Regions from separate parts of the Homo sapiens genome. Here region 2 is linked to region 1. Evidence: fine-mapped expression QTL. Tissue or cell type: esophagus muscle. Region 1 holds a variant in brackets; the other region holds the start of a gene. All regions are shown on one strand. Distances are from middle to middle.

Region 1 (11,415 bases):
GCCTCCCGCCTCCCAGTCTCCAAGCCCCAGTATCACTCTCCTGTGTGCTCACTGTTCCCTTCTCCACCCATTAATAAAAACCTGCTCAGCCTCCTGCCTCAGAAGATCAATGATCTGTCAGAATCATTCTCCTTAAGGTCTTCATGGAAGAGCAACACTTCTCCCAGACCTTGCTGCACCTAAAAAATCAGGGATCCTAGATTGTCTATTTGCAAAAGATCATATTGCTAGTGGTGGCAATGAAGCCATTTCAGGCCCCAAAAGCAGTCAATTTGAAACAGGTAGCTTCTGACCCCTCAGATCCCCCCTGTGTAGGTGAACCCTGAATATTCTATGACATCAGCCTTCTTTTAATAACCAAACAAAATGACCCAAGCCCCTGTGTTAGGTCATTCTTGCATTGCTATAAATACCTGAAAGTCAGTAATTTATAAAGAAAAGTTTCAGGCTCACAGTGCTGCAAGCTGTACAGGAAGCATGGTGCCAGCATCTGCTTGGCTTCTAGGGAGCCCTCAGGGAGCTTTTACTCATGGCAGAAGGCAAAGTGGGAGCTTGCACATCACATGGTGAAACCAGGAGCAAGACAGAGAGGGGTGGGGGCAGGTGTCACACACTATTAAATGGCCAGATCTTCTGTGAACTCAGAGCCAGAGCTCACTTATCACCAAGGGGATGGCCCAAGCCATTCATGAGGGATCCACCCCCCTGATCCCAACACCTTCCACCAGGTCCCACCTCCAACATTAGGGATTACATTCAACAGGAGATTAGGGTGGGGACATCCAAACCATAACAACCCCTATCCCATGGGGGTACAGTGCCCTCTTGGAGACTCCTGAGGGAAGGTAAGAGTGGGGAGACATATGGTCTCCTGGGACAGGGAATCTCTTAAAATTGAGTATTAGTTATCAGTGTTCTTCAAGTTGCTATTGTGGCCTCATCTCTTCCAACCTCTTTAGCTGGCTCTTTCCTTTACTCATCTTCTCCCAGTTCTCCAGCCTCTGAATCTCTATTTCTCCCTTCCATCCCCAAACTGCTGAGGGAAAATGGAAATCTTCTGTTACTTTATTATACAAAGACGTTTAAGTCTGAACTCTCCTCTCTCCAGAGGCTTCAGGGCCTCTTTTACTCATCTGCTTAACAGGTTTTCCTTAACAAAGAACTAACATCCTTGGCATGAATTCCATGCTTCCAGTGCACAGTGGAACTGCAACAGTCATTTTTGGTTTGAAATAGCAATTTTTCCTTCCTTGCTACCTAGGCAATTTCCTCTTCTGCCTATAAGCCTTACTTTGATTCCTAAACCATAAGAAACTTCTCTTAGGGCCAGTTCATTTTTCTCAATTATTTATGCATATATATGTATTTTTTCCATAATGTTGTAAAACCACTTCAAACATTACTGAAAAACAAAAAACATGATTCCATCACTCTAACAACCACTTGCATTTTTAAATGCTCCATTCTAGTCTCTGTCCACCCACACATATATTTTAAGGCATCTATGTTTTCCTCTTCTGCTTTTTGATTTTACATGACACGACAAACAACTTCCCATGTCTTCATTGCTATTGCTTTAATAGCTGTATAACATTCCATTGAATTATTGTCCCATAGTTTAGCTACCCATTCTCCATCACAAAAGCAGGGATCTTTGTCTCTCTTATTCAGTGATGTACCCCAAACAGTGGGATACAGTGCCTGGCATATAATAGGACTTCAAAAAATATTTGTTAAATTGACTGAATGAATGAGGCACTTAGATTGTTTCTAATTTCTCATTGCTATAGACAAGATGCAATACACATTTTTAAGCATATAACTTTTTTGGCTTTTTTCCATGATATAAATTCCCAGGACTAGATTAATAAAAACAGCAGCAGCAGCAATGATGGTGATAGCTAACATATATGAGCAGATACAACATGCCAGGCTCTGTGATGAGCACTCTACAACCATTATATCTTTGACTCTTCACAGCATCCCTATGAGAAAAGTACTAATTATCCCCATTTTACAGGTGAAGAAACAAAGAACTGGTTATTTGCCCAAGGTCACACAGTTTGTACAGGGCAAAGATGGCATTTGAATTAAGGCTTATACCAGTCCAGATTCTAAGTTCTTTTTTTTTTGAGATGGAATCTCGCTCTGTCGCCCAGGCTGGAATGCAATGGTGTGATCTCAGCTCACTACAACCTCTGTCTCCCGGATTCAAGTGATTCTCCCACCTCAGCCCCCCAAGTAGCTGGGATTACAGGTGCACACCACCACACCCAGTTAATTTTTTGTATTTTTCATAGAAATGGGGTTTCACCATGTTAGCCAGGATGGTCTCGATCTCCTGACCTTGTGATCCGCCCGCCTCAGCCTCCCAAAGTGCTGGGATTACAGGCGTGAGCCACCATGCCTGGCCTCTGGCTCTAAAATATTAATGGCTCCTGTTGTCCTCAAAGGAGCTCAATCTAGTACAAGCAAGCGAATCACTTGATACCCAAATTCTGATGGCCATCAGTGTAGGGACACAACCTGAGCACAGGCTAATGGCAGAGATAGACTCAAACTCAGCTCCTGCCATAGACAAAGCTCAGCCTGCCTCGTGTTGGCCTCCCAAGCCCCAGAAAGACACTCTTTCTGAGAAACAAAACCAGGCTTCCATGATCTGACCTAAAGTGCTAATCCTTGAAGAGATTACCTTTACGCATGATATAGCAACCATTTGCTTTTTCACTGCAATAGAGGGCATCTAAATATTTCTTATTCTTGGCCTTTGATCAATGGTTTTGTATTTATATTTGAGATGATCTCAAAACTTATAAGAATAAAATAAAACCATGTTGCAAAGTGCGGAGCAAAAAAGAGCTTGAAAATAGCCTAAGACCTTCCTCAGTCCTCCTTCCTTCCTCCCTCTCTTCATCCTACAACGAATATATCCAGACTTTGGGGTGGGGTACCAATTGCATAAGACCCCAGGGTATCTGTGCATGCACATCAGAAGTAAAGTACTCCAGGAATTCCTAAAAATTACTTCCCTAGCATCTCATTTGTGACCACGGACAAAAATAATGAGAATGGAAAACATCCTTGGCCAGGGAAGTCAGCTGTTTCTGTTCCCTGATTTTGAATCTGTGAGCAAAGCTTTGCTGTCTCGTCTGGAATCAGAAAGGTCAGTTTAAGGTTAAGCCCAAGTGAACGGTCCATCATGAAGTAAACACAGCACAACCCAGGGCTATGTGCAATGTTATTCTTTCACCTTCTTCCTGGAATTTCAGAGGTTGTACAAATGGAACACTAAAGTGAACAAAATAATGTAACAGTGCAAAACAATGTCAGTGGAGAAATGTTTACTTGAGGGTTCAAAAAAGAAACAAAACATACTTTAACTATGAATGTGCCTATCTCTCCTCCCAGCTCCCTAAGTCCCTCTTTCCTCAAAAGAAAAAAATTATCCTTTCTTTCTTTCTACCAGACTGTGTTGTTTCCAAAACCCTTTCTTTCTCCCTCTCTTTCCTAAATACACAAAGAGAAAGAAACAGGACAGTAGAAGTGGATGGGAAAGCTGAAAACTCAGCAAACCCAGTGGTTTTCAAACTTTTTTAAACCAAAAAATATGATTATGGACAAAACTTATTTGTAAGCTGAATTAGACAGCTATAGCTGTGTAACAAAACACAACAGCTTATGGCAGCATGTGTTTTTGTGCTAACAGATCAACAGGTTGACTATAAGTGGATCTAGGCTGGACTCGGCTCTGTTTCAGGCTACAGGTTGGGTTTAGGTCTGTTCTACACCCCTCTTCTTCTCCTTGGACCAGTGGCTCCCTGCAGCATATTCTCACAGCAAACAGAAGAGTACAAGAGGTAAGCCAAACCATGCAAGTACATTTAAAGCCTCTATTCACATCACATCCTCCCACATTTCATTGGCCAAAGTTAGTCATATAGCCAAGCCCAAAGTCAGTAGAACAGGGGAGTTACGGTCTGCTCCAAGAGGAAGAAGGAAGGGAGTGATTTTTATTGCTGACCAATAATCCAATCTCTCATAGAAACCAAATATATAACACAGAATAAGTGGCTTTTTGCTAGTTGAATGAGGGATGAAGGCCCTCTAGACACATGCTCTTCCCCATCCCCAAATTCCCAATGAGTCCTCTGGCAATCCGGCAATCCCCCAGGGCATCAAAGAACACAGCATGAAATGCAAGGCAACCCTCCCATTTTACAGATAAGAAAACTGAGGTGCAAATCATCCTAATAACTCATCTACTATCTGAAAAGTACCAGGTGTAGGGCCACAAGTAAGGAGATCCTTTCTATGCTTTTCCGAATGTAATGACAACTGGTCATTTTCCAGTCTCTAGGCATAGTTACAGGGATTATAATGGATAAAGAGTTTACAGTTTGTGTAAATTGCTTGCAGCTGGAGAAAATGTTCACAAACCAGGTAGCATAGTAAATAAAGAAAAGGAGGAAGTGAAGAATACCATTCTGACTACTGACCGAATCTCAAACTATTCATTTCACAGTAAATAAGTGAGAACTAACTACTTCAGTCCCTGCCACCCAACCATGATTCCATGTAAGTTACAGCAGTGACCGACAAAATAGGAGAGAACACAGTTGAGTTAAATTCTAAGTGTATATCTGATGAAGAAAATTGTCAAAAGAAAGAGTAAGGATGGGATTGATTGTATTTCTATCTGTGGATAAATGAAGGCTTTAGAAGCCAGAGAACCGGGAAAAGGGCAGAAACTGTTGCAAAGTGGCACTTTGTCAGCACTAGAGGCACTAGGGGAGCTCCCTGGTCTAAGGAGTTCAGCCACCAGGGATACCTGAGAAGTCCAGCTGGATTATGTAGCAGGCAGATGTTAGAAACAGGGAGTAGGGTCAACACCTTGAAAGACAGCCACTTCAAGAGACACTAGAGTGAGACTAGGGAAATACTGGGGTCCCAAAGACGGCTAAATGTTTCAGCCTTACTCAGCCCATGATTCCAAAGTCAAGGATTGGT[T/A]GTACAGAGGGTCCCTTTCAGTGGTTAGAGGTTAGAAGGGAGACCAACGCACTCCAGCATCTGGGGATGAGATGAAATGGCGAGGCTATTCCCTGACTTGAGAGTGCCAAGGCCTTCCTTGTCCAGTTCCCTGGCATGGCCCTCAGCTCAGCTCTTGTCCCCCTTGCCTCTCCAGGCTTGAAATGTCAGAGCAAGTAGACTGCACAGGCCACTACAGGTGCTGAAGCTTTTAACCCATCCAATCCACATGGGGACCCCTCGGCAGTGACTTGTGCTGTGCCACCAGAACTAAGCAGGAACCACATTTCCCAAAGTTCCTTCCTCTATGGTTCCAGATTAAAGCTGGCAACAAGAGAAATCTGTGAGAAGATTGGAAGGCAGAAGGGAAGCAGTAGCCATTCCACTCAGGAGGTTTAATTAGGGACCCGGCGCAGCAGCAGCTCACATATATCTCAGACCTGCTGCCTCACCTTGATGGAGCAGGGCTCCAGTACCTCCGGCTCCCTGGGTCTCCTCCAGCCCAGAGTCCTGACCCAGGTGCATGTCCAGGCCTGAGATGAGAGGCATTGGCTTTTCCTGCAGGTCACTGTGTTACCACTGCAGGTGGTGAGAGTCAGAGACATGGTCCAGTTTGTTCTTGCTCTCCCCTTTCCATCCACTTTCTGTCCCATCTGTAAGCCCTGCTGACCCAAAGAAACGTCAAGCCCAACACCAGATACAGAGGCAACAGCCTTGCCTAGACTTTTTTACTAGTTTTCATAATGGGTAAGTTTAATCCCTATGATTAATCCCTTATTCCGTGTCATACAGAGTAGCTCTGATTTCCTGATCAAATGCTAACTGATACAACCAGCTACTCCCATGGCCTTAGCAAATGCAAAGACCCTCTGTCAATGCTTCCCATGTGGTTCCTCTGATCAGAATACTGTTGGTTCCTCCAGCTTTCTTCTTTCTTGACTGAACTTTTACCACTAAACCACTGCCACCATCACCACCACCACCACAACTACCACCACCACCAAATCATTATCATCATTACTACAACCACCTCCACTGTCATGTTCACCACCATCAAACCACCATCATTAACACCATCATTACCATCATCACTACCATTACTGCTATCACCAGTATCATCAACACCACCATCACAGTCACCATTACAACTACCACCACCATCATCACCACCACCCCTATCACTATAGCCATCACCTGCCACGAAAATCAGCACTACCACCACATCAACACCCTCACCGCAACACCGCCATTACCATTATCATCATTCTCATTATCACCATCACTCCACCACCGTCATTCTCACCAGGCCACCACTACCACACCATCACCCCTCCTTTACCTCTTTTCATCTTCACAGCAGTCTCATCCAGGTCAGATTATTCCTAGTTTACAAATGAGTAGAGGTTAAGTAACTTGTCAGCAATCAAGGAGAGAGTTAAACCCAGGTCCAACCTCAAATTCCCTGTTCTTTCACTACACTACACAGCCTCCAAAACTATGTTTGACAGAGCAAAGGGCAGTCAATGGTTAATGGAAAAAAGGACTTAAAGCAGCAGAATTGTGCTGATCAAGAAAGGAAGGGCAGAGGAATAGTAGCTAGAAGGCATAAGGCAGGCAAAGAAGGGATGGATTCAGACAAGATCCCCCAGAGCAGAGGGGCAGAAGGGGGCTCCACGTGGGTGGGAGTACTGACCCAAAGCCTGTGTCTAGGATTCAGAGAGGAAGTGGCCTTGCTCCTGCAGACCTCAAGGCAAGCCCCAGAGGAAAGCTCTCCCACTGCATGAAGGGCAGAAATCAGAGTCCGAGGGGCCAGTGAGTTAAAAGGGGCGAGTCAGAAACGACCCAGGGAAGCACCTACAATGCCACTGAATGCCTTAGCCAGGGTGGTTCTCAGTCCTGGCTGCGCAATAGAAGCAGCTGGGGAGTTAAAAAATGTACTAATACCGAAGCCCCACACTAACATTTCTATTATTTTTGAAATGCTTCTCAATTCATTCTAATGTGCAGGAAGGGTTGAGAAGCAATGCATTAACCCAACAACACTCTGGAATCATGCTTTCCTTCCACCTGAGCCCTCAGAATTCCCTCACACTCTAGTATAAACTAGCTGGGCTCTTAAACCAAGTGTCTCCAGGTGCTAGACAGTGGTAAAATAGAAGAGAGAAACGGATCCTTCCTAGGATAGGGAAAAGATGAGTCTAATTTTAGATCAAGGAATCTACCCTTTTATTTTGGGGTCACAAAACTAGGTAATTAATCCATAGGTTGAAACAATAAGAAAAAGAAGGTAAGCTGAAGGAGACCCTCACTGTTTGGTAAGGGGCTATTCCTCTCCCCAGCCTGGAGGTGAATTTGCCTTATTATCTACTGTATTCATATACTTAATAGAACAAGATAAATTATAAACAACAAGAGCCACTGTTAGCATTTGCTGAACACTTATTGTGTGCCGGGGACTGGGTTAAATCTTTTAATTCTCAAGGTAACCCTATGTGGTGGATGCTAAGATATTCCTCATTACACAGATGAAGAAACAAAAGCCCAGGGAAGCTGAAGAACTTGCCCAAGCTCACATCAGCAGCAGAGCTGGGATATGCACAGGTATATGCCTCCAGGGTCCACACTTTAACTCCACACCACACAGCATCCCAATCGCCATGGGTTCTGGGATAAGTATTACTGTCCCCATTTTACAGGTGGGGAGACTGAGGCTGCTGCATCTTACTAACACAGCCTGGATTTGGAACCTCCATAAGTAGAATATACCAGAAGAGCTGAGCAGCAGTTTGACCTACAGGCAGAGAGGTTTCTAAATGCCCAGTTCTTCCCCTATACCACCCCACCCTTTATGCTCAGAGGCTACACAGAAATCACATGGCATGACCTTTCAAAATAACTGCATTTTTAAAAATCAACTCAAGACCCAAACCAGTATTGGTATGTGAGCCGAATCTGAAAATGACACGTAAATAGATGGAAAGGGCAAATCCAACCGCGCTGTACGTTGAGCAAAACATCTCAAATTATTTGTTTCAAATATTTTGCAATTAGCAAGACCCAAACCACACTTTTCCAAGCATTCCCTTCTCCACCCCACCCCACACTACCCAGTTTTACATTGTAAGCCCATGTGTATTTCCCAAAAAATGTAATCCATATGTCTCTGAGCCGTTTACACTTAACTCATCAAATTGTTGTTTGCTAAGAGTTGTCTGCTGCCCATGAAGCCTTCTGAGACTGTCTGTGAGGCCTTCAAAAGCCCCTTTCTGCTTCTTTTCTTAGAAACAGGAAGCTACATTTAGCCAAGGGCAAATGAAATTGAACATGTTGGCACTGGGAGGGAAGAGGTTCCAGGGCCAAAAAGTTTGTTCTTGTTCTCAACATGGCAGAATATCAAGGAAGGTCTCTCTGAGGCGGTATTTCAAAGCCCAGAAAACCTGCTCTCGGTGGAATACCAAGCTCAAGATTGAGTTCAATTTTGTTTTCAGCCCTGTTCACCGTCCCTCTATATGCCAAGGTCCCTACAATGGTTCAAGATTGTCACAGGGAGCAAGCAACAAATCCGTGACCTGCTGGTGAGACCGATGATATCAACTGCTGTGGTAGAAGTAATACTGGCTTTCCACCTCAGCAGCTAAAGGTCTTGTAAGTTCTGCTTTTCTATCTGCCTTTTAAAAAAGCACGCACGTATATAGACAACAAACCAAACACTTTTCAAAACAAACCATTCCATCTGATACAGTTTAACTCATCCATGTTTTTTGGCTTTAGCAAAAGGTTTTAGTTTAGTTTTATTTTTTTTAATTGCTTAAGTTCAGCTAACTTATATCCCTTGGGAAAACTGATCTATGTAAATGTGATTTAACTAAAGGGGTTTGAGCCACTCACATGTGTTTTACATTTTCTAATCATCCTGAGCTCTGTACGTGGTGAGCAGACTGAAAAATGATGGTGGTCTCATTTCAACATCAATTTTTATCCATTCTATCTCCCAAGAATGCCAAATGATGGCTGGAGAGAATCTCACTTCCTGTTTCCAGACAATCAGAAGCTGGTATTTATGAAAACTTGGAAGTTTGTGAAGTCGATTGCATGGCTAGAAGATCCAAAGGAAGATGGCAATTCTTTAAGATATCTACATTCATTAAATTGGCTAAAACTTTAGAAAAGATTCCTTTTAAATATTATATTTCCCTGATTAAATTAAGTTCAACAAACATTTAAGATGCCTACTGTATTCGGCATTGTTGCATAACAAATTACCACAACCTTACCAGCTTAAAATAATATACATTTGTTATCTCAGTTTCCACAAGTCAGGAGTCCAGGCATGGCTGAAGCAGGTCCTCTGCTCAGCTGTTCATATGTTACAGTTAAGGTGTTCGTCTGGAGGCTTGACCATGGAAAATATCCACTTCCAAGCTCATTTGGATTGTTGGTAGAATTCATTTCCTTGTGGCTATGTGGCTGAACCACCTGTTTTCTTGCTAGCCAGTGGCTGGGAACTGCTGCCAACTCCTAGAGGCCACCCTCAGGACCTTGCCACATGGGCCCCTCCATAGGCCCCCTTAAAACACAGCTGCTTACTGCTTCAAAGCCAGCAGTGGACTGTCCTCCTTCAGGAAAGGCCCAGTCCTCTTTTAAGGGCTTTTCCCTGATTAAGGTAGGGCCATCCAGTATAATCTCCTTTGTGAGTAACTCAATATCAACTCATCTGGGACCTTAATTACATCTGCAGAATTCCTTCACCTTAGCCATATAATGTAATCTAATCAGAGAGTGACAGCCATCATATTCACAGGTCCCATTCATATTTGTGACACCCTGTCTCAAATTTAAAAAAAAAGAAAAGAAATGAAAAAGAGAGAAAGAGAGAAGGAGCAAAGGAAGGAAGGGAGGGAGGGAGAGAGGGAGGGAGGGAGAGAGGGAGGGAGGGAGGAAGTAGGGAAGGAAGGAGGGAAGGAAAGAAAAAGAAAGAAAGAAAGCTCACTCACAGCCTAACAAGGGCAGTGGATATGCAATAATAACTATTCCATGAGATATGTTCTATAATAGAGGTACATTTAACGTTCAGAAATAGCACAAAAGTAGTAACATAAACACTGAGCTTTGTAACATAAATAGGAGTTCACCAGGGAGGCAAGCATGAGGAAGATGGAGGGTGGGTTAAGTAGGATTGGCTCAAAACAGGTATAGTGTGATTAACAAATTACTAGTAATTTGATTTTGCTAAGATTTCAGCAAATGTGCTGAGCATTTTTATTTGCTGTATCTTGACTTGTCTTCCTTTTTAAAACAAAGAAAGAAAAGATTTCTAGTTGTCCTAAAGACTGGTCAATGGACCTCACGTATGTGTGTGAAAATGTTGTCCATGACTCATCCCCTTACAACATGATGACAACACTGAGGGGAAAGATGCATAGTCAGTTAATGCTCCAGGCCTATGAGAAAATGTACTCCCAGTTTCCTTCTGAATGTGTGGACCTTTTACAATGAGAAGCTTCCCTTGAAATAATGTTTCATTCCAGAATGGTAGAAATGAGTCCATACCTACAGACATAACAACAGCAAAAGCTACAGCAGTTGCAGAATTCCTGAGCATGAAGAACAGCAACCAAAGTTGGATGAAGACAGGGAAATCACAGTGCCTGTGGTGACACATGCTGAGAGCTGCACCCCACCGGGTGGTGCTTTTGTAACTCGCAACAAGATTCACTTTTGAAGCTTGAAGTCTTCTGACTCTTCTACCACAATATGTAAATACAGGCCAGAAAGAAAATGCCTCTAAAAATTACAGTAGCCTTCATGTCAACTCCAAAATACCTCTTTAGCCATGAGGAAGATGACGACATTGCAAATGAAAATGCAACCATCTTGCATGCGGTTCAGCTCTGAGTGTTCCACTCCCACTGCCAACAGTCTGATGTGGGATTGTTTCTGGTTACGCAGAGTTAGTTAACCTCCCTGTGGCCTTCCTGACAAGCCATATGGATAGGAACTACAAAGTACTGGGAGACCCGGATTCCAGTCTCAGTTCAATTCGTTCTTTCATTTATCCAGAATTGTTGGAGGACAAGTGAGTTTTCCACTTATTGGATAAATAAGTTTTCCAAACAACTGAAAATTTTGGCTAGCCACAAGATTTTTGCACTTTTATTGTTTAAATAGGGGAAATTCTCCTAAGATATGGAATATATTAAAAGCATGGGCCCTGGACCCTGGATGCCTGGGTTTGAATCTCAGCTCCAACACGTGCTTGCAGTGTGATGTTGGGCAAAGGGAACTTCTCTCTGCTTCCGGGGATAACGATAGTCCTTGCTTCAGAAAGTAGAAAGAGTAAATAAATTAACCATACAAAACAGAACAGTACCTAGCACATAAAAATTGTTT
Region 2 (9,708 bases), 40 kb after region 1:
TTTTCTCCCCTTGTAAGATGAGGAGCTTGGACTAGAAGTCTCAGGTCCCTTCCAATTCTGGAACTGATAAGTCTCATCAAAGTGATAACTTTAACCTATACTGGAGTCGGCAAATCATAGCCCTTGCGTCAAATCTTGTCCACTGCCTGCTTTTGTATGGTCCATGAGCTAAGAATGGTTTTTACATTTAAAAATCAAAAAAGTATTTCATAACATGGAAAAAATTATATTATCATTTACATATCATCTATGGGTGCTCTTGCAACACAAGGCTAGAGTTGAGAAGTTGCAACAGAGACAGTATGCCTGCAAAGCCTAAAATATTTACTATCTTTACAGAAAATGTTTGCTAACCCCAGACCTAAGCCATCAGACCATTTGCATAGTAAGAAAGTCTGCCGCAACACTCTCACCTGATTGAAGTTTTATCTCTGGAAAAGAGAAATTTCACAAAGTAATTTCAAGAGCCAAAAACAAAATTAGTGGACAATGAGACAATTTGATCCTAATGAAAGAAACTGCTGGAAATCACTGATAAATCTCCCTTGCCAATGTCAGGATTGATTTCTTATGAGAAACGATTTACTCCAAAGAATTTGTCACTTCCCACTACTTGCAAAAAGGCCATTACAGTGAATTTTTCCCCTTTCTTTTTTTCTTTTCACTTTTTTTTAAGTGGTCTGAAGGCAAATCTATCTTTCCTTCATGAGTAATAGGATCATTCGTGAAAATGGCTGTTAAAAAGCAAGCAAGCATGGAACAAATCGCAGTCCAATAAAGCTGTGACTTTGAAAAGGAAATTGCTCTGCTTAAGTGATGGATTCTGTTTCAGTCCTCACGACCCAAGTTATGAGGCAGTCCAGGGACCGGGGTCCTGGCCCTCATAGTCAAAGCAGCTGCAAAGCCCCACTGGGAGCTCGCCAAGGACTCTGTGAATGGCCAAAAGCTGACCCACCCACCCCATCACGTCTACAGGCTGCAGCCCTACAGGGCCACAGAGGCTGAGCAAGAATGTGGCAGTACCTAGCATCCAGTCTCCTCCAGCGACCCTTTCAGCCAGCCTGGAATGTCCCCTCACCCCCACCTCCTCTCTGCTTACTTACTCCAATCAAGGGCTAGTTTGAGTTCCATAACCTTATAATACCCTGTATTATTTTTCATCATTTTATGGTTGTGTTTTCTCTTCCCAAGGACTGTAAGATCCTTGGGCACAAATTGCACCGATCATTTAGACAACTTTCAGTTAGAGACTCACAAGAAATCCCAGTGAAGAGGACGATAGCGATGAAATAGGAAATTAGCAGGGCTTCGAACCTTTTTTCTCAAAGAGGAGATGGGAGGCTTGAACAATGTTTGTTCTCTCTGATTCTCAGGCAGGGCTTCCTAGATAAAAAGCTGAGATCTGGGGACAATGTGAGAATCCTTAGCAGTATGTTGCTGTTGTTGCTTTATCAGAGGATGTTCTGCCTATTGAGAGCAGAGTCGGTGCTGCAAATTCTTCCCTTCTGGACTTCGCTGAGGAACAGCTTCAAATCAAACTATTCCGTTTCCTTGAGAACAGAGAAGCTGGAGCCTCGGAGCTGTGGGGCTCCCTACTTTCAGCTTATGGGGGCGTGAGACTGTGACATCAGGCCATCCCCTTGTTCCCAAGACACCAAATGTTTGCTTCCCATCTTAACTCTATTCAAGGCAGTCACTTCAGAAGGAACTTTTGCTGAATTCATCTGTATGCTGTAGCCATGTAAATAAATGTTCTTTCAAAATTAGAAATATTTGCTTTAATTCTAAATTAAATTTAACATTTTCCTTTATATTACTGTTTTAAGATACTTTGTATTTTGAAAGGAATTTAATGTTTTGGAAGAGTCTTAGTCTTAGAACCTATCAAAATAGGGCTTCTTCATTTTGCTTTCAAAAAGAATCATAAGATGATTGCAACCACTGGGAAAAGATAAAGCCAATTCACTAACCTGGGAGCATCTGAAAAATCAACTCCTGAGCTCCACCCTTCAAGAGATTCTGATTTAATTGCCCTGAACAAGGCCTAGGTCTGGGACTTTTTTTTTTTTTTTTTTTTGAGACAGAGTCCCACTGTGTCACCCAGGCTGGAGTACAGTGGTGCAATCACTACTCACTGTAATCTCCACCTCTCAAGTTCAAGCAATTCTCATGCCTCAACCTCCCAAGTAGCTGGGATTACAGGTGCCCACCACCACAACCAGCTAATTTTTCTATTTTTAGTAGAGACTGGGTTTCGCCATGTTGGCCAGGCTGATCTCAAACTCCTGACCCCAAGTGATCCACCCACCTCAGCCTCCCAAAGTGCTGGGATTACGGGTGTGAGCCACCACCACTTCCAGCCTACAGGTCTGGGTATTTTTTGAAATCTCCCCAGTGTTTCACTGGCCATGTGAAAATCAGACTCCAGGACATGAGTCTCATATATACTTCTGTTGGAGTATTTATCACTTTATACCATCAATACTCATGAGCATATCTCCCTCTCTGTAGTGGTAGTTTCTGAAGGGCTGGGAGAGGACTGTCAAAACCCAAAGTGCCTACCATTAACCCACCTCCTTCTGAGGGACCATCCTCTGTGGAGGGAATGTGGGGAGGAACTCTAGGAAGTATCTCAAGCAAAGGTGGCCAGGCTGTGTACTCTGTGATGCCAACAACCTGGACATGAATGATTGGCCCAGGATAGGCACCTGCCCCCAGGTCTGCGGATATACAGGGTGTTTTGCAACCTGTAAGGAGACTGATACAAAGGCTCAGTCCAACTCTCACCCCTGGTGAATCCCTAGCAGGACAAACTAGATCCTTTCACTAAAGGAGTTTAAATGTGAGATCAACTGAGAGCTGAGCAGTTGGTAGCAGGAGCAGAAGCCAAAGGACACCCAGGGGAAAACAGCGAGAGAGGAGCTGAATCACCTTGGCGGCTAAGCCGTTAGTGGGGATCGGCAGATGCCTGCTGCTGAGGGGGCAGCGAGATAACCCAGTCACAGAGCTGTATCCTGAATGACCTTCCAGTTCCTGAACTTCAATCCAGTTTTCATGAGGCCTGGCTGGGTGGCCTTTCCGGAAGGCTTTTCGGAGACACGTGGCGGAATGGTGGAGATTCCGGTCAGCCTTCCTTCCACAGTAAATTCCCATTACTGAGGGTAAACCTCAGTGGTATCTGTTCCTTGCAACCCCCGCCCCCCGCCCAAAAAAAAAGCCCAATCAGCACAATGCCCAGGGCCTAGCACTTTGCCTGGCACACAGCAAGTGCTAGATATTTGCAGGTGCTTGGACGGGCTGATCATCCCCAGCAAAAAGCCCTCTAAAAATAAAGAAATCATTCAGAGTAAGAACATTGATGAGGGTCGTCTTCAAATTCCAAAAACAATGCTAAACGGCAATAAATATATTAAGCTTATTCTGCCCTCTAATTTCTGAATCTAACTACATTTCTACCATAAATCTATCAAAGAGGGAAATGTCATTTTCTGCAGAACTCCAGAGAGCATCCTAATTTCAGCTAAGGTATGTTTTGATGACTCGATTTTCACTTCGCTTAATCTTAAATCACAGCAACGTTAGTAAGAACAATTTTCCTCCCACACTCGCTTCACTGACAAACCTGCAAAGTAGCTGATCTTTGACTTTTAAGAAGTTTAATAATACATGATCTTCCCCCCACACTGCCACACGCATTTCCCCTGCCTATTGTCTGTATCAGCTACTTGAAGAACACATACTCCCCAACAACCGGATGAGTCATAAAATAAGAGGTACATGGACGTAAACTGAGCCTGTTTACACTTTCCCTGGCCCCAGCTAATAAAATAAAAGAGGTCCCACTGAATTCAGGTCCAATGGCTTCCGGAAAACAGGTTTCTGCTTAGCAAAGACATGCCCTATTTAGTACATTATTTTAGAGGTACAGCCAATTCCATGCCCCATGTGAATGAAATGTATTTATGGTTATAGCCATGCACAGGGTGTGTAAGGACTTGCCCTCCTCCTGTCCTCTACAAAAGAAGGCTCAGGCAGCTTCTGGTGGTGAACTAACCAACAAAAGGAATGCCCAGAAGGTCTCACCTCTCCCATCCACAGAGCTCTGGAATGGGGGCCGGGCCCCTGATCGCTGGAAACTCAGCATCCAAGTGGGCGCTTGCTGAAGTTTCCCATCTGCATTTTCGAAAATCTGGATAAAAGCAGGTTTAGCTCAACCTCCCCTAACCCGTTCCTGATAAAGTGATCTTACGCCTCTGGAATTGGGATTTTGAATGTATGTGCCTGCCCCATGTCTGGTATTAGATTACAACAGCATGAAAATGGAGCCTAGGACTGAGGAGCCGGCCAGCCTCAGAAGCCTTCTTCATTGCCTGCCATGTAATACATGATATGCAAAGCCTCTGACTTCAGCCAGCAGATATTTGGAGACCGTGTTGGCCTTAGCATGGGGACTAAACTAATGTGTGTTTAGGTCAGAAAGCGAATCAGAAAAGCCACTGGAGGGCACGTCACGGAGTGAGAGCCCTATAAATTCATCCCCACTCGCAGCGTCCCCTGGCAAATACTCGGCTTCCCTCACCCGGCCGCTCCGCACCTCTCCTTCTCGGTGCTAGAACTCCGGCCGGCAGCTCCTTTTCTCGCCACTGCCTCCTGCCCTGCGGAGAAGCGAGAGGGCGAGACACCCGAGCGGGAAGGCCGGCCTTCGACAGGCGCGAGGAAAGCCCGGCGCTGCCCTGCACCGGCAGAGCGCCACCCTCCCAGTGCGGCGCGCGGGGGCAAAGCCCGGCGCGGGCGCCGCGGTCAAGTTCGGATTGCCCCTTTCGGCTGGCCCGCGCAGAGCGCCGCACATTCCTCTCGATTTTTGATCCACCCGGAGAGGAGAAGGCGCTAGCCCCGCGGCGTCTCCGCGCTCTCAGCGCTCTCCCTGCAGCCCAGGGAGGGGCGCCTCGCGTCGCCCACTCGCACCCCGGCCCCCCGCCTCGGGAACTCCAGGGCCTCCTCGCTGCTCTCCTCTCCTCCCCCACCGCCAGGCCCAGCCGACGCCTCCCGACCCCTCCCTCCCGGGGCCCCGCGCCTCCCCTCCCCCACCCCGGACCCCGGACCCCCAGCCCGGGCTCTAGAAGACCAGCCTGCGCTCCTGGCGCCCTCATGTCTTCACGGGACTCCCCGCGCCGGTTGACGTGGTGTCTCGTTCGGATCTCCAGGCAAGACCTCAGCTCCGGCAGCAGCATCAGACAAACCAGTCTCGTGCTCCCAGGCAGTGCGCCCAGAGGAGGCGCAGAGCGCGGCAGCTGCCGCTGAGCCGCCCGCAGCGCCCCGGGCCCGCGCAGCCCCAGCCAAGAGCGCGACGCGCGCAGCCCTGTCAGCCCCCCACCCAAAGCAGCGGCGGCTGCTCGGACCTCGGCTTCTGGGGGTGCGGGGGCCCGGCGGGAGAGTTGCCGGCAGCCCTCGCCCTGTTGGCGGCGGCGGCGGCGGGAGTCTTGGCCGCCGCCTCCAGCGCGCCCTTGCTGCCCCGCGCGACCCCAGGATTGCGAACTCTTGCCCCTGACCTGTTGGGCGGGGCTCCGCGCTCCAGCCATCAGCCCGGATGGGTCTCCTGGCTGGGACTTGGGGCACCTGGAGTTAATGTCCAACCTAGGGTCTGCGGAGACCCGATCCGAGGTAAGTGAGGGAGCGGGCCGGGGAGCAGGGAGCGGGTGGTGCCTGCGTCGCGGGTGGGTGCGGCCGGCTGAAGGGCGCCCTAGTCAGAGGGGTGCGTCTGGACCCCAGAGCAAACGGTGAGAGTAGAAAGTGGAAAGACTAGAGGGAACCTAAGCTATGCGAGGAGAGAGAAAAGTAGAACCGGAGAGAGGCCGGCCTTTCGGAGGGGCATGTTGCCTTTTCCACGTGGGCAAAGATCTGTGGAGCCCCAGATGCGCCTGGACCCGGAATGCCCAAGAGGGGCAGTTTCCTTCCCCGACTCGGCCAGGTGCTCTTCCGTCAAGTCACAGAACGATTCAGGGCTTGGGTCATCTTCGAACCCACCGCCGTCGAAATGTGTCCTCTCTGGACGTGCAGAGATACTATCATTGCCAAGAGTGCAACTTACTATTGAGCTTGTTTTGATCTGTGCCAAGGAAAAGCGCAGGCCGGGGGAGGGGCTGCTGCAAAGGTGCTGAGAACCTAAAAATGGAGGGCTCACCTCCTCCGGGCGAGGTCTGGCAAAGCTACATTCCTCACCCGGTTGCCTGCACGTTCCTAACGCCCTCCACCCCAACTAACCATCCCCGTCGAGGTTAGGAGAGGGGCTTTCTTGCCAGTCCTGGATTCAAATCTCTGTCTCGAACGTATTCTTGAGACTCCACTAGGCCATTGAGGTTATTATTTTAATGACCCCTTTTTCTCCTGTACTCTGTGCCGCCTTCCAAAAACACCCCACCACCACTGCCACTACTTTACACCACCTCGAGGCTAATTCCGCACTGGTGGTTTGTTTCCTGCCCCAACGAAGAAAAACGAACCCTCTTCGGGCTGGAAACGGACTTTCGCGGGTTCCCGCCAGCTTCCTGGGGCCCAGCTAGTTTCGGCTTTGGTAGAATCCGCCGCCAGGACCCATGTGCGCGCCCCCGGGGGGCTTACCCATCCCAGAGCTCGCGACCCTTCTGCTCATAGGCGGGGACAAAGGCAACTCTTCCGGCCCCTGCTGCGGAGATGTTAGAACGCGCTCGACTCTTGCTCAGTGTTTGGAATATATGCTTAGGTATTTCAAGGAAGAGATGTTTCTTCCAACCTCATTCACGCACCCAGTCCCGCAAAGCCGTCAAAGCCGGCCTCGACCAAACTCGTACTGTTTCGCTGCGCCTTCGCTTTGTCAGGGAAGGTGGCGCCTTTTCAACAAGTAACAAGTGTCCGATCTCTGGGAAGTCCGCCGTGTCCCTAGCCCTTTCCCGCTAGCAATTCGGGTGCTCTCGGGCCTGGAACCTGGCCCTTTAAACAGACCGCTTTCCCAGTTTGCCTGCGAGAAGTGTCCCAAATTCTTTTTCCTTCCCTCATCTTGGGCCCCGCAGTTATGGGGGGTTGAGGGGAGAATAAGTCCTCTGTCAGTCAAGGACACGAAGCATAGTTAAGAAAAGCAATAGATCTTCCAGCAATTTCTGTCTCTACCTCCCCCCGCCAAAAAAAAAAAAAAAAAAACCGAGTTTATAGCAAACCCGTCTCCCCGCCCCACCGCCTCCTTTTTCTCTCTCTGAGACCTGGATCTTGAAGGCAAAGCCCAAACAAACCTCCCAGCCTGCCAGGCACAAGAAGGTGCGGGGGCACTGACGGCGGGAGCGCTGCCTCCTGCGAATCTGTCACGGTGACGCGTGGAAGGGGTGAGGGATGGTCTGAAAGCAGGTTGCCAAGAAACCCGCTCAGGTGAAGTGGGGAGAGGAAAACCAGCGAGAATGGAGGGGTGGGAGCCTGAAAAGCAGAGATGCCAGTAAGGACCTCCACAGGTTCCCGGGCTAATGGGATTTCGGGAGGCTCGTAGAGGGAGTGGTGGTTCTCCGGTTTTATAACTAAAATGATAACACAGCCTCCGGGCCGCGTGGGCGCGACACGGCTCAGACGGTTTCTGGTGCCCCCTGCTGCCGGGAACTCAGAAGTGCCTCGCGGCGAGCGGCTGCTTCTGCGAGCACTTCTGTGGCTTTCCTGGGCGTCCTTGCCTCCCCAGGCCTGGGGACCCACAGGTGCCGGCGCCCACGGCCTGCTGCTTTTGCCCTGCCGGGACGTGGTGGTCCCGGACCCAGAAGGGGACCAGCTTGCCAGGCACGAGAAATGGTGCGCGGTCACCTGGCAGAGCAGAGCCCCCGTCACTTGAGGAGCAGAGCTTGGTTCTCGCACGTGGCGGCGCGTAAAGCAGTTTGCACCGCGGGCAAAGGCCCATGGTTGAGGAGAAGCGCGTCGGGCAGATGTAGATGTGTTTTGGGAAAGCGATAGAGAGACAAACTGAGAAGCCGAGGGGTGGAGCCCACACGGACTCTAAGAAAAACGTCCTAGTAGACGCTGTGTGTGCCGAGTCCCCCAACCTCCCCCCTTTTCCCCCGCCCAGCAAATACCGAGAACGAAAGAGCCCCTCGGACTGGAGCCGGTCCCGGCGGCGCTCAGAGGGAAGAATGCGCCCTCCCTGTCCCGGGGGAAGAGGGGAGCTCGATCCGGGCGCTGGCGGCGCTCGGCCGAGGGCGGGAACCGCAGCCGGGAGCCTCCTCTGGCGACGCGGGGAGTTTTCCACTGTGTAGTCTTTTGCCAGCTTCGCCACACTTCTAATTGAGGATCTCCACGTCCAATTTAAAAAGCCCTCCGTCGGCCAAGCAGGAAAAAAGGGAAAACCCTCTTAAGACGGAAGGGAAATCTAGTGCCTCTGTGGCTTCCTGCTGGCGGGCACCGCGATTTGGAATGGCGCATTAACCCCGCGCCTCCATGCTCCTCCGGTCGGACCGCCAGCCATTTCGCACGCACCCGGGAGCTGGCACCGGCGGGGGGCTTGAGGGGGGAAGCTCGCGTTCCCCAGGTCCTAGCTGCCAAAGTACCTTTCTGGGCTCATTTTGCATGGCCTGGTGCAGTTTTCCTGTGTCTGCACATCGCGACCCAGAACCTAGCTTTTTCCCGAGTTTGCAAACCAGCCCGCGAGGCAAGAGGCGCTCGGTGCTGCAGGTCACTAGGAGTTTCTAGTCCCTACACCCTCTCGAGCCCAACAGCTGCATAGCGAACAAACAGACGCTCAGGAGATGTAAAATGCATTAGTCTCTGCAGAGGTGGGAGGTGGCGGCCGAATTAAAGGCTTCCCCGGGTTGCCTGCACCGGGACAGGGAGTGGGGTTCCGGGTAGAGATGAGGACTGGAACCCTGGAATGGAGGCGGGGGTGCCTGTGAACTAATGGCTAGGAAAGGCACTGAGGTTTTTGCATTAACCTGGGTTTTGCATTTCCCTCCCGCATGGGAAAAAAAAAATCGAGTTTTTCCTAAGAACCGTTTTATGGAGCCGGTCGAGGGGATAGGATAATCGACTGCACGAATCTCGCAGATTCCGCTTGAGGAGATTCTCTCTAGGTCACTAGTGCCCTGGAGACGAACCCTGGGATTAGGAAGGCACTGGATAACACTGCACCCCAAGATGCCTCGGTTCTTCCCCGTCTCCTCATTGGTTGGAACTCGCCCCCAAATTTACAGCCCCTTTTTCTAACCCACCCCCAGCTGCGTGGCCCTCCTTTGTAGGGGTGTGAGGATTGAGAAGCCAAACAGAGCCCACCTCGGGCTGAAAAGAGCTGAACCCCCTACTCTGCGCCGTACCACGGTCTAGGCCTTCCAGTGCCAGAGCACCTCCAAAGCGTCCGAGACTGGGTACAGTCGTCCAGGCGTGACGGGGGCGCGGGGAGCCAGTGACTCCTCTGGGAGGGGAAGGGATTAGGGCCAGAATCTCTCAAAGGTGCAAAAATCCAGTCAAGAGAGGGTTTTCGGGTATACCACGGAGGATTAAAACTTTCAAGACAAATGCAGTCTTTGCCTAACAGCAATGGTAAAGCATTTACTGAGCTCTTACTACATGTTCCGCTAGAGCTTGTCATGCGTGATTTAATGTTCATAACTTTAAGAGGTGGGAGGAGTATTTTAAATCGAATCAGTGCTTTGGGAAGTTAAGTAACTTAAACCAGATATCCCATACAGGCCAAAAGTCTCCAAGTCCCTGCTA

Alleles and levels. Alleles are on the strand shown, and positions count from the first base shown. SD is a standard deviation of normalised expression in the study named.
For the expression in esophagus muscle of the gene that starts at base 5,284 in region 2, allele T in region 1 goes with a higher level than allele A (small effect, 0.16 SD a copy in GTEx).

The links. PIP is the estimated chance that this variant, and not a neighbour inherited with it, causes the effect.
Region 2: it holds the start of GDNF-AS1, and the variant in region 1 is fine-mapped to the expression of GDNF-AS1 in esophagus muscle (GTEx, PIP 0.97).

The regions. Positions count from the first base shown.
Region 1 is chr5:37,874,629-37,886,043 of GRCh38, reverse strand. GDNF-AS1 (GDNF antisense RNA 1) reads right to left here. Exons shown (of 4, transcript NR_145476.1): 4 at 10,245-11,343. Among named protein-coding and RNA genes, the nearest start is that of GDNF, 40 kb to the right of the region's middle. The variant T/A (reference allele first, on the strand shown) is at 5,008.
Region 2 is chr5:37,835,460-37,845,167 of GRCh38, reverse strand. It overlaps GDNF-AS1 (GDNF antisense RNA 1), which reads right to left and starts at 5,284. Exons shown (of 4, transcript NR_145476.1): 1 at 5,130-5,284. GDNF (glial cell derived neurotrophic factor) reads left to right here and starts at 5,127. Exons shown (of 3, transcript NM_000514.4): 1 at 5,127-5,661. RefSeq lists enhancers at 5,266-6,203, 7,661-7,730, 8,082-9,020.